Homo sapiens: one gene and its partners. The protein of the gene in region 2 purifies or fractionates together with the protein of the main gene of each other region. This does not show direct contact. Each region holds a gene or a part of one and is shown on either strand. Other genes may lie near its edges.

The links.
Region 1: the proteins of TIPIN (region 2) and CDC45 purify together in Homo sapiens (affinity purification with mass spectrometry; one large-scale study listed by BioGRID and IntAct). This does not show direct contact.
Region 3: the proteins of TIPIN (region 2) and MCM6 purify together in Homo sapiens (co-immunoprecipitation; one study listed by IntAct). This does not show direct contact.

What each region holds. Positions count from the first base shown.
Region 1 is NC_000022.11:19,517,853-19,521,266, reverse strand, and holds the end of CDC45 (cell division control protein 45 homolog), read right to left. Parts: intron 2,424-3,414; coding exon 2,359-2,423; 3' UTR 2,358-2,358; intron 787-2,357; 3' UTR 659-786; downstream 1-658. UniProt on the Homo sapiens protein: Required for initiation of chromosomal DNA replication. Core component of CDC45-MCM-GINS (CMG) helicase, the molecular machine that unwinds template DNA during replication, and around which the replisome is built.
Region 2 is NC_000015.10:66,335,691-66,339,685, reverse strand, and holds the end of TIPIN (TIMELESS-interacting protein), read left to right. Parts: intron 1-2,504; coding exon 2,505-2,728; 3' UTR 2,729-3,495; downstream 3,496-3,995.
Region 3 is NC_000002.12:135,869,719-135,873,443, reverse strand, and holds part of MCM6 (DNA replication licensing factor MCM6), read left to right. Parts: intron 1-600; coding exon 601-747; intron 748-3,082; coding exon 3,083-3,193; intron 3,194-3,725. UniProt on the Homo sapiens protein: Acts as a component of the MCM2-7 complex (MCM complex) which is the replicative helicase essential for 'once per cell cycle' DNA replication initiation and elongation in eukaryotic cells.

The DNA of each region.
Region 1 (3,414 bases), on a different chromosome or scaffold from region 2:
GAGACTCTGTCTCAAAAAAAGGAAAGAAAGGGCATGGAAAGGAAGCTGCACAGCCTTTGAATTTTCCCAAATGGCCAGGGTAGGCAGCTCAAGGGTCCCGGGAAGCTGTGCAAACCACCAGAGGTGAGGGGAGGGGCCCAGCCTCCAGTCCAGCTCTCACCCTTTTGTGCCCACTGCCCTTTGCCAAGGGCTGCACCAAGACCAGCCCCACCTACCTGTGTGCTCTTTTCCAGGCCACTCTTTCTGAGCTTTTCCCCACTGACTTAAAACCTACCCAAATCACTCCTGCCTTCAAAGACCTGGAAAAGAGTGCTGGATGGTGAGACCCACAGGTGGAGGGATGGCTGAGAGGGTGGACTTGCTATGTGGCTGAGGCCAGGTGGACCAGAGGAAGTGGTAGGTGGACAGAGCCAGGTGCTGGCTGGCACCACCAGGCAGTGGCCGGTGCAGGTGCTATGAGGAGGCGGGGATGCCGAGGGGTCCTGACCTCTGTCCACTGCCACCCGGAGGGCCTGGAGGACAGAGTAAGGAGATCTTGTCCTTGGGGCCAATCCCCATGCTGATTTCCTGCCAGGCACTGAGGGCTCCTGGGGCCCAAGACCCACAGAAGGCTCAGAGCACACTCAAGCACTGGCCTCGAGACCAGAGCCACAATGGGGACGGAGCCTAAAATAAGCATTTTATTTAATAAAAAATGGCTTCTACATCTCAAATCATGTCCATAACTTACAATCTAAATGAAAGCCAGTTACATAAATAAGAAGGTCATTCTGGAAGAATCAAATTCTAGAAAACAAAACAAGAAAAAACAAGTTTCAAACGATGTTGATGTGCCACCGAATTGAAGAAACTGCCCAGGCGTCCCCTCTGGGTAGTGCTGCTGAGTAGCCAGGACTGCTTGTGGGGGTGAGGCCACCCCAGACTCGGAGGCCCCTGCTGTCCTCATAGCACCCCTTGACTGGGCTGAGCTGTCCTACATCAGAGCTCCTGCCCCCTGGCCCGGGCACCTTCTTACCTCACGGACCCCGCCCAGCTGCTCAGCCAGCCCCCTGGCACCCTCCCATGGGGGCTCTCCCTCCATCCCTCGGCACTCTGCTGCTCAGCCCTCCTAGCCCAGGCCACCTGTGCCCCTGCCTCAGTGGAAGGACACACAGCAGCATAACATCACCACCAAGCAGGCTGCAGGGGAGGGGTTTGCCTCTAGCACCCACTCCACTGCCAGAGAGCCCCACCTCTGCCTCCGCCCCACCCTATGCAGTCCTGTGATGCTCACACTCATCGTCTAAGGAGAGAGTGGGCCCCATTTTTGGATGAGGAAACAGGCTAAGCCTGATTAGGTGGCTGGCCCAAGGTCACTGCTGATGACCCTACAGAACTTGCCAAAAACCCCGAGGGTCTGACTCAGAGCCCCGCGCCCAAAATGGGCCCCATGTAGCCCAGGCCACCCTGAGAGGAACTGTGGGGTCCCTGAGGCCCCCTATGCTGTTGTCAGCAGAAACCCCCACTCCAGCCCCAACAGGAGAACAGGTGCTTGCCCCTGGAGGGATGGACAGATGGATGGATGGACGGACGGATGGGAGAGTGGGGAGGACCCCAGGCCTGGCCTGAGGGACCTCCTGCAACAGAGTCTTGGCAGGGCCCATCTGCCACAGCCGCAGCCTCCAGGCTAGGGCTCTGGGAGATGCAGGGCTGGATGTGGCATTCCCTGTGGGGAACCTGGGCTGAGAGATGGTTACAAAGACACAAGGCAGGCCTATTTCCTGGGAACCCTTAAGAAAGAGGTAGCACATGGGGCAGTGGGAGGTGTCCCGGGACAGTGACCTGCCAGTGAATCCCAATGGGGCCCTCAGGACAGCTGTGTGCTGGTGAAGGCCCCAGCAGAACCAGCGCTTTGGAATTCCCAGCTAAGCGGCTGCCAACAGCTTTGCTTTCTCATGAGCCAAGCACACAAAAGCCCGGATGGCTGCTCTGCGGGCTCTTGCCCAGCGCCTGACACGAAGGCTGTGGGACAGGAGGCTCCAGGTGGCCTTCGAGGGCAGCACCAGGGAGTCTGTGTGTGACATGTGTCACACGCGATGCCCAGCCCAAGTGTGGTCAGCAGAGGGTGAATACCAGCTCTTTCTGAAGGGATCGCAGGGGCTTAATGAAATTAGCTGCCTCAAAATGCCCCATTGTGGCCCTGCTGGCAGCCTAAGGACAGATGTGCTTGGGAAAAATGTGTTGGCTCCAATCTCAAGAACCCTGCTTCGGTCTGAAACCCAAGTAGAAGCCTCCGTTGAGGGAGGACAGAGCAGGGCATCAGGGTCGGGCTCTGAGGGGGCTGCTGCAGCCACCCCTGCAGAACCCCTGTAACTCACCCTAGGACAGGAGGGAAATAAGTGCGTCCAGAAACTTGCTCCGATCCTCAGCTTTCAGCTCAATTACTGAAGTAATGAAAGAAAAACAGCCGTGAGAAGGGAGGAGTGGGAACACAAGACAGGGCACAGAACTCCCCTCCGCTGCCTGCCCTCCACTGCATTCCAAAGTGCGCGGCTCCTCCCGGCCTGTGGTATTCTGCACTCAGTGGTTGTGTCTGTCTCACTGTACTTCATCTTCACAACTGCTGTCTGCACTGCTAGAGAGGTCAGGGTTGGGGCCTGCAGGGAGAACTCCCCCCCGGGAAGACAATAGAGGTGACACAGGGAAGGGCCCTACAGACCTGGACAAACACGGGCCTGCCCACCCCAGCTGGCATGAACCCCCGTCCCCAGAGTGGGTTGTGGAAGTCCTTGGGTGGGGCAGGTCACTTTTGGCCGCACTCTGGCCAATTCCTCGGCTTCAGTGTTCTCTTCCGCACAAGGGGACATGGTGCAAACTGCCCATATCTCACAGGGCCCTCAGGCTCAGCTGAGCACCCAGACCCTCACCACAAAGCAAAACCAGGCCCCAGGATGGGGCTGGCCTGGCCCTGGGAGCCATCTATGCTGCCAGCCACAGCCCCGAGAGCCCCAGACCCAGCCCACGCAGGTGGGCACTAGACATGGCCCACTCTGCACCCTCACCCCTGGCTCTCCACCCTCAGGGAAACCAAGCAGTTCCCAGCCCGAGTCCTCCCTGTATACTGAAGGCCAGATATTCTGCAGGCCAGTGGGTGTCCATCCACCTCTCCCACATCACAGGCACAAAAGAGTTAGCAGGGGCTGCTGTGCGGGGTGAACCAATGCCACACAGTGCCACAGCCATGGCTGGGTCTGGCTCAAGGAAGGCAGCTCTGAGATGGCTGACGCCACTTCAACAAAGGCTGGATCTCCCATGACAGTGTCTATCATTGTTGAGGAATCCGTGGTGATGAGGCAAGAAAATATCCTTTCTCAGAGGTGCAGGAAGTACTGAGGGTGTTATGAGCTGAACGGTCTCCCCCACATCTCTATGTTG
Region 2 (3,995 bases):
TCTTGACTCACTGCAGCCTTGAACTTCTAGTCTCAAGCAATCCTCCAGCATTGGGCTTCCAAAGTGCTGGGATTGCAGGTATGAGCCAGTGTACCTGGCCTAAATTTGCTGTTTTTAACACACATTGTGGGTTTGGAAACTATATAACCAAATTTGTTAAAACTATATTTAGAAAGAATTGCAAGTTGGTTTTGAATGAAGTAAGCAGGATTGCGTATATCTTTCTTAATTTCCCATTCAGTTTTTCCTTTCAAAATGGAAAAATAAGAATTATAGGCCCAGCACAGTGTCTCTTGCCTGTAATCCCAGCACTTTGGGAGGCTGAGGTGGGCAGATCACTTGAGCCTGGGAGTTCAAGACCAGCCTGGGCAACATAGTGAGTCCCCGTCTCTACAAAAAAAAAAAGAATTATAATAACTAGATACCATGTTGTAAACGAAGTTTCACCCAATATATTAACATTTTTAAGTGAAAATTATTTTGGCTACTTTTTTTTTCAGTTAAGATGAATTTACTTTTTCTTTTTGCTTTTTTTTTTTTTTTTTTTTTTTTTTGAGATGGAGTCTTGCTCTGTAGCTCAGGCTGGAGTGCAGTGGCGTGATCTTGGCTCACTGCAACCTCTGCCTCCCGGGTTCAAGCAGTTCCCCTGCTTCAGCCTCCTCAAGTAGCTAGGACTACAAGTGCGTGCCCCCATGCCTGGCTAATTTTTGTATTTTTAGTAGAGAAGGGATTTCACTGTGTTGGCCAGGGTGGTCTTGAACTCCTGACCTAGTGATCTGCCTGCCTCAGCCTCCCAAAGTCCTGGGATTACAGGTGTGAGCCACCATGCCCAGCTGAATTTACTTTTTCCTTTTTTTTTTTTTTTTTTTTTTGAGACGGAGTCTTGCTCTGTCACCCAGGCTGGAGTGCAATGGCGTGATCTCGGCTCACTGCAAGCCCCGCCTCCCGTGTCCATGCCATTCTCGTGCCTCAGCCTCCCGAGTAGCTGGGACTACAGGTGCCTGCCACCACGCCTGGCTAATTTTTTGTATTTTTAGTAGAGACAGGGTTTCACCGTATCAGCCAGGATGGTCTCGATCCCCTAACCTCGTGATCCACCCACCTCGGTCTCCTAAAGTGCTGGGATTACAGGTGTGAGCCACCGCACCTGGCCAATTTACTTTTTCTTTATAAATGGATGTTTTATTAGTACCATGTGAAACATTACATGAAGATAGCATTATTCTTGATGGCAGTGGCTTCTTTGCTGTCAATATCAAGTATACCTGGCAGTTGGTATTTAAAGCTCACCTCTGTTTATCATATACAACTTAAAATTTGTCCAAATGGAAATAAGTACTTTAAAGTTTCTTATGGATCACTCTGACATAAAACCTAAACGCACTTGGTTTTTATTAGACCTCTTTCTAGTAGTTTTCAGTTTTGTTTTTTTAGATGGGGCCTCACTGTATTGCCCAGGCTGGAGTGCAGTTGCTGATCTCGGCCCACTGCAACCTCCGCCTCCTAGGTTCAAGCGATTCTCCTGTCCCAGCCTCCCGAGTAGCTGGGATTACAGGCGTGCTCCACCATGTCCGGCTAATTTTTGTATTTTTTGTAGAGGCAGGGTTTCACCATATTGGCCAGACTGGTTTCAAACTCCTGACCTTGAGTGATCTGCCTGCCTCAGCCTCCCAAAGTGCTGAGATTACAGGCATGATCCACTGTGCCTGGCCAATAGTAGTTTGATTTTGAATAAGAACAGTTACATTTGACTATGATCCAAGAGTGTGAGTTGAATAACATTCAAAACCATTTTGCTTTTTTTTTGTTTTTTTTTGGTTATAGGATCTCACTTTGTCACCCAGGCTGGAGTGCAGTGGCACGATCATGGTTCGCCACCATAGCCAGCTAATTATTTTTTTTTTTATTTTATTTTTTTTGATGTTTTGTTGACATGGGGTCTCACTATGTGGCCCAGGCTGGTCCTGAACTCCTGAGCTCCAATGATCCTCCCACATTGTTGGGATCGGGCCTGGCCTCTCTTGCATTTAAAATGGATCTTAATTGTATAAAAATGGGCTTATTGGCTAGGCGTGGTAGCTCACGCCTGTAATCCCAGGACTTTGGGAGCCTGAGGCGGGTGGATCACCTGAGGTCAGGAGTTCGAGACCAGCCTGGCCAACATAGTGAAACCCTGTCTCTTCTAAAAATACCAAAATTAGCCGGGTGTAGTGGCGGGTACCTGTAATCCCAGCTACTCGGGAGGCTGAGGCAGGAGAATCACTTGAACCCGGTGGAGGTTGCAGTGAGCCCAGATCGTGCGATTGCACTCCAGCCAAAGTGATGGAGCGAGACTCCATCTCAAAAAAAAAAAAAAAGATATATTTAGAAGAAAGTGATCATAATTAACATTAAGTGATCTTAGACTTCATTTTACTAAACTGAGCTTTTGAAGAGGTTTGTACTCATGCGGTAAGATTGGATCAGGTACTTATAATGAATAATAATGGTATGATTTCTTTCAGATATGTTAATGAATACACCCAGGGCACACACGGTTGAAGAGGTTAATACTGATGAGGATCAAAAGGAGGAGTCAAATGGATTAAACGAAGACATTCTGGACAATCCATGTAATGATGCTATTGCCAATACTTTAAATGAAGAGGAAACACTGCTGGACCAGTCTTTTAAAAATGTGCAACAGCAACTTGATGCTACATCCAGAAATATTACTGAAGCTAGATAAGTTTCCATTAAGAGAAAATGTATCTGTTAAGTCATCGTCCTGCAAGCTTGGCGTTACTATGTATTTTTTCTTCTTGGAGTGAAAATCCTTAGATAGTAAAACTGTTATAGATTATTGTTTAAAATCTGATAATCTGGTATTTATTTATAATTATGCTTGTCACTTTAGTTAAATCTATTTGTTCTCTTTAGTGTTTGTTTTTATATAGGTATTTCTTCATAAAATGATTAGGAGGTAATAAGCAGTTTCTGCTGCTGGTCTGTCATTGAATGCCTTGTTTTCACTAAGTTGGGAGGTTTTGTTTCTGTTTTTTACTGCTCCTTGCAAAGCAGGGCTAATCCATGGACAGTGTGCCCAGAGTAGTCTAGTTGAAGTTTTTTGTTTTGTTTTGTTTTGTTTTTTTTGACACAGAGTCTCACTCTGTTGGCCAGGCTGGAGTGCAGTGGCACAGTCTTGGCTCACTGCAACCTCTGCCTCCTGGGCTCAAGCAATTCTCCTGCCTTAGCCTCCCGAGTAGCTGGGACTACAGGCGTGTGCCACCACGCTTGGCTAATTTTTGTACTTTTAGTAGAGATGAGGTTTCACCATGTTGGCCAGGCTGGTCTCAAACTCCTAACCTCAGGTAATCCGCCCCCCTCGGCCTCCCAAAGTGCTGGGATTACAGGTGTGAGCCACCGCGCCCAGCCTGGGTGAAGTTTTGAGATGTACATATATACTGAATATTAATGTCAATTTTTTAAAAGAAGTAAAAATTATCTTAAAAACTATCTACAGGCTTTATGGGAGGTTTTCATTGCTATATAGTTCTGCAGTTTACACTTTTGGTAAATACAAGATTTTTACATGTTTTCTAAGGAGTTACTTTAATAGTTAAAAGGTCACATGAAAGGCCGATACATTGCCTGGCCCTCATAGGTGCTAGGGTAGTTCAAAGAATGCTTTTTGGGAACTTACTGACTAGTTGGAGTGAAACTTGCAAAGTATCGTGGGGAACATAGCATCTCGGGAGGATTTACAGGAAAGACTTTGCTTTTGGTGGAGGAGATTCCAAGTATTGGGAAGCACATGTACAATAATGATACAGAAATAAGATTAAGGGGATAAGGCAGATTTTAGGAATGCTGATTTTGAGGTTAGATGTGTTAGGGCCAAATCGTGAGAACACCTGATTGGAGTTCTTCCTGCCAGGTAGAGGGGGTAGTTACAAATAAGAAAGGTTAGTGTTAGGAAAGGCTCTCCCACCCCACCCCCTCACCCCTACCCACAG
Region 3 (3,725 bases), on a different chromosome or scaffold from region 2:
ACACCTCATTTCCATGTATTCTTATTTCTGTTCTGCTTCTTAAATCCCTGACTAATTTGTTAGTTTGCAAATTCCCTACAGAAATGGAATCATTGGGTTTGAGACTGAATTTCTTGATTTAACATTTTCCAATCTTAATTATACATGACAGTAGTAAAAGAAGAGTTAGTTGTTGGGTTTTTTTGTTAGTTAGCAGTTAAACCTCACAATCATGGTGGAAGGCAAGGAGGAGCAAGTCACTGATGTCTTACGTGGATGGCATCAGGCAAAGAGAGCTTGTGCAGAGGAACTCCTCTTTTTAAAACCATCAGATCTCGTGAGACTTACTATCAGAGAACAGCAGGGGAAAGACTTGTCCCCATGCTTCAATTAACTCCCACCAGGTGCCTCCCACAACATGTGGAAATTCAAGTCGAGATTTGGGTGGGGACACAGCCAAACCATATCAGAAGGGAGGAGTAACTTGCCCCAAGTTACAGAACTGCCAAACATGGGCCTGTCTGAGCCTAGTTGTTGGACTTTAACCAATGTTCTGAATTATCATTCAGGTTCTTTGTACTGCCTGTGTCCTTAATCTAGTTGACTCGAATGTACCTGCAGGTTTCAGAGCAGCGATGGAGAAATTAAATACTTGCAATTAGCAGAGGAACTGATTCGTCCTGAGAGAAACACATTGGTTGTGAGTTTTGTGGACCTGGAACAATTTAACCAGCAACTTTCCACCACCATTCAAGAGGAGTTCTATAGGTATGGGCATATTAATCTTCTTTACTTTGAATAGGGGTTGAAATCCGGGAAGCCAGCTCTTCTTGGACTGTAAGTGTTCACTTGTGTAGCAGAAGGTCAGCTTTCACAGTTATTTCCCACTGAGAAGAGGCGCTTTGATACTGCCAGTGGTCGTTTTAGTACTGCTCTGAACTTCATGTAGGCCTTTGTAGAGCCGAACGTTTTTTTGTTGTTGTGTTTTGTTTGTTTGTTTGTTTGTTTGTTTTTTGAGACGGAGTCTTGCTCTGTCACACCTAGGCCGAAATGCAGTGGCGCGATCTTGGCTCACTGCAACCTCTGCCTCCCGGGTTCAAGCGATTCTTCTGCGTCAGCCTCCCGAATAGCTGGGATTACAGGCGCCCACCATCACGCCCGGCTAATTATTTACATTTTTTAATAGAGACGGGGTGTCACCATGTTGGTCAGGCTGGTCTCGAACTCCTGATCTCAGGTGATCCGCCCGCCTCGGCCTCCCAAAATGCTGGGATTACAGGCGTGAGCCACCGTGCCCGGCCAGAGCTGAACTTTTTTTTTCAAATACAAATGTTGAAAATCTTTGCTTTCTATATAGTTTTCCCAAGAGGAAAACTGTACTTACTTACTTTTGTGTCATTCCATTGATCCTTTTTCCCCACAGGAATAGGTGTTTGTGTGGGTCCTTTTCTTGTACTGGGGATATCTTTACAGCATTGACGTTGTTGTACTTCTTGTTCCCTTAAAGTTTAATTTTGTTTTCGCTTATAAAAGTAATAGGTATATATTGTAGAAAATGGAGAAGAGTAAGGAGAATTAAATTGCTTATACACTTGTAATCCACCACCGTCATTAGCAGATCTGCTACAACAGAGTTCCAGGAGCCTTCCAAGTCTGCAAGTGCAGAGTTTTGTAAGGATCTTCTGTCACATTTTGATGTCTTTGTGTGTATGCTGTGTATGAAATTACTCAAATTCATATAAAATTTCTTAAACTCATACTAATAGCTCCAATTGTGGTTTTTTGGTAGAAATACTATGGTTAGACATTATATTTAATAGAAGGCTTTTATTTTGTTTTGACTTGTTATATATAGCAAGAAACATCTTTGCACACAAGACTTTGTATTAGGATTAAATAAATGTGACAGTCTATAGAAATAGAATCAGGTTAAAATAAATTGTGGACAGTTGTGAAAGATAAATGAAAACCCAGGGATAAGGAGGCACAGTCTCGTTCATTTCTTAGTAGATTAGGAGATGGAGGATTTGTCTGTGTTTCTGGTCATAGCTGATGATCAAGAATAATTGGAGGGGGTAAGTAAGCAACAGGATTTATTGTGAAAGCATGCAGCAGTAGAAGTTATAGCACTGACAAATAAGGGAGAGGTAGACAATCAAGCCTGGTGGTAGAAGCAGCTGTGCCATGCCTCATGCACAAGCCAGGCAGCAGTTCTCTTTCCTGAGAGTAGCGCCTTTTTTAGAGGGTTTCAGACCCCACTTCTTAAACAAACTAAGCTGGAGTAGGTATTAGAAACATATCAAAAGGACATGCATACTTCACTCTCACCAGTCAAATGGAGCATTTTTGCCAATTTGTTCTCACATTAGTGCACAAATACTTCTCCTGTCCTCATCCATTTCTTATCAAACCAGCCAGATGTGGTGGCTCACACCTGTAATCCTAACACTTTGGGAGGCTGAGGTGGATAGATCACTTGAGCCCAGGAGTTTGAGACCAGCCTGGACAACATGGTGAAATCCCATTTCTACAAAAAAAACCCCACAAAAATTAGCTGGGCATGGTGGTGCATGCCTGTAGTGCCAGCTACTCAGCAAGCTGAGATGGGAGGATCACCTGAGCCTAGGTAGATTGAGGCTGCAGTGAGCTGTGATCGTGCCACTGCACTCCAGTCTGGGTGACAGAGTGAGACCTTGTCTCAGAATGAAACCAAAGAAATTGACTGACTTGACACATGACTTACTAAGTCATAAACAGCCCACAGAAAATTCACAGTATTGAGCATAATATTGACAAGATGATTGTTCAGCTAGTCATCTTGGACAGAGGAATGGCCAACAGTGTGGGTGCTGTATGATTATTTATGTGCTATATGATAATCAGGTATGGTATGACATTTTATATTTAGTGTTCCGGTGGGATAGGAGAGAACTGAAAGAGGGTCCTAAACCTAGAGTAGATAATAGAAGTGTCCTACACAGTTAAGTTCTAAGGTTTAGTTGTAACCAGATGAAATTCCTTAATCTCGGCTGTTGGTAGGTATGTAAAGGGAAGGAGGCCTTGGTAAACCTCTAAGGTATCAGCTGACTTTTTTGTTTTTCAGAGTTTACCCTTACCTGTGTCGGGCCTTGAAAACATTCGTCAAAGACCGTAAAGAGATCCCTCTTGCCAAGGATTTTTATGTTGCATTCCAAGACCTGCCTACCAGACACAAGTAAGAAACCCTTCTCTGGAAAAAAAGGAATTCACCAAATGGTATAAGTACCACTTAGCTGACAGTCAGAAAACTTGAGAGGTTGCCTTGATCTGCTATTAGCTGGCTATTTAACATTATACAAATCACTTTTACCTCCCTGAGCCTCAGTTTCCTTGTCTGTGAAGTCTTTTGGCTTAGGTTTTCTACCTAAATCATGCAAAAAATAGGTTTGTTGCTGTAAAATTACTTTTTCATAATTGATAATCACAATAATTATAAAACAAGTACTTATAAAATTGATGCTGTAAAATACCAGGAGGAAAAAATAGTGGTTTGCATTCAGATTTTGTAGAAGGTTGACTTTTGTAGGAGTTATACCCACTTATCCAGAAAGTTTAGTGTTGGAGAAATGTATTTTCCTATGGAGATGGGATTAGATGTAAAGGGAGTGAAGCAAATTTTTAGGATTATCACATTTTAGGGCGCCTTTTAGGGAAATTTGGGAGAAAATTGATCAAGGGAGAAAATATGAAATTCTAGAAATTCCTGA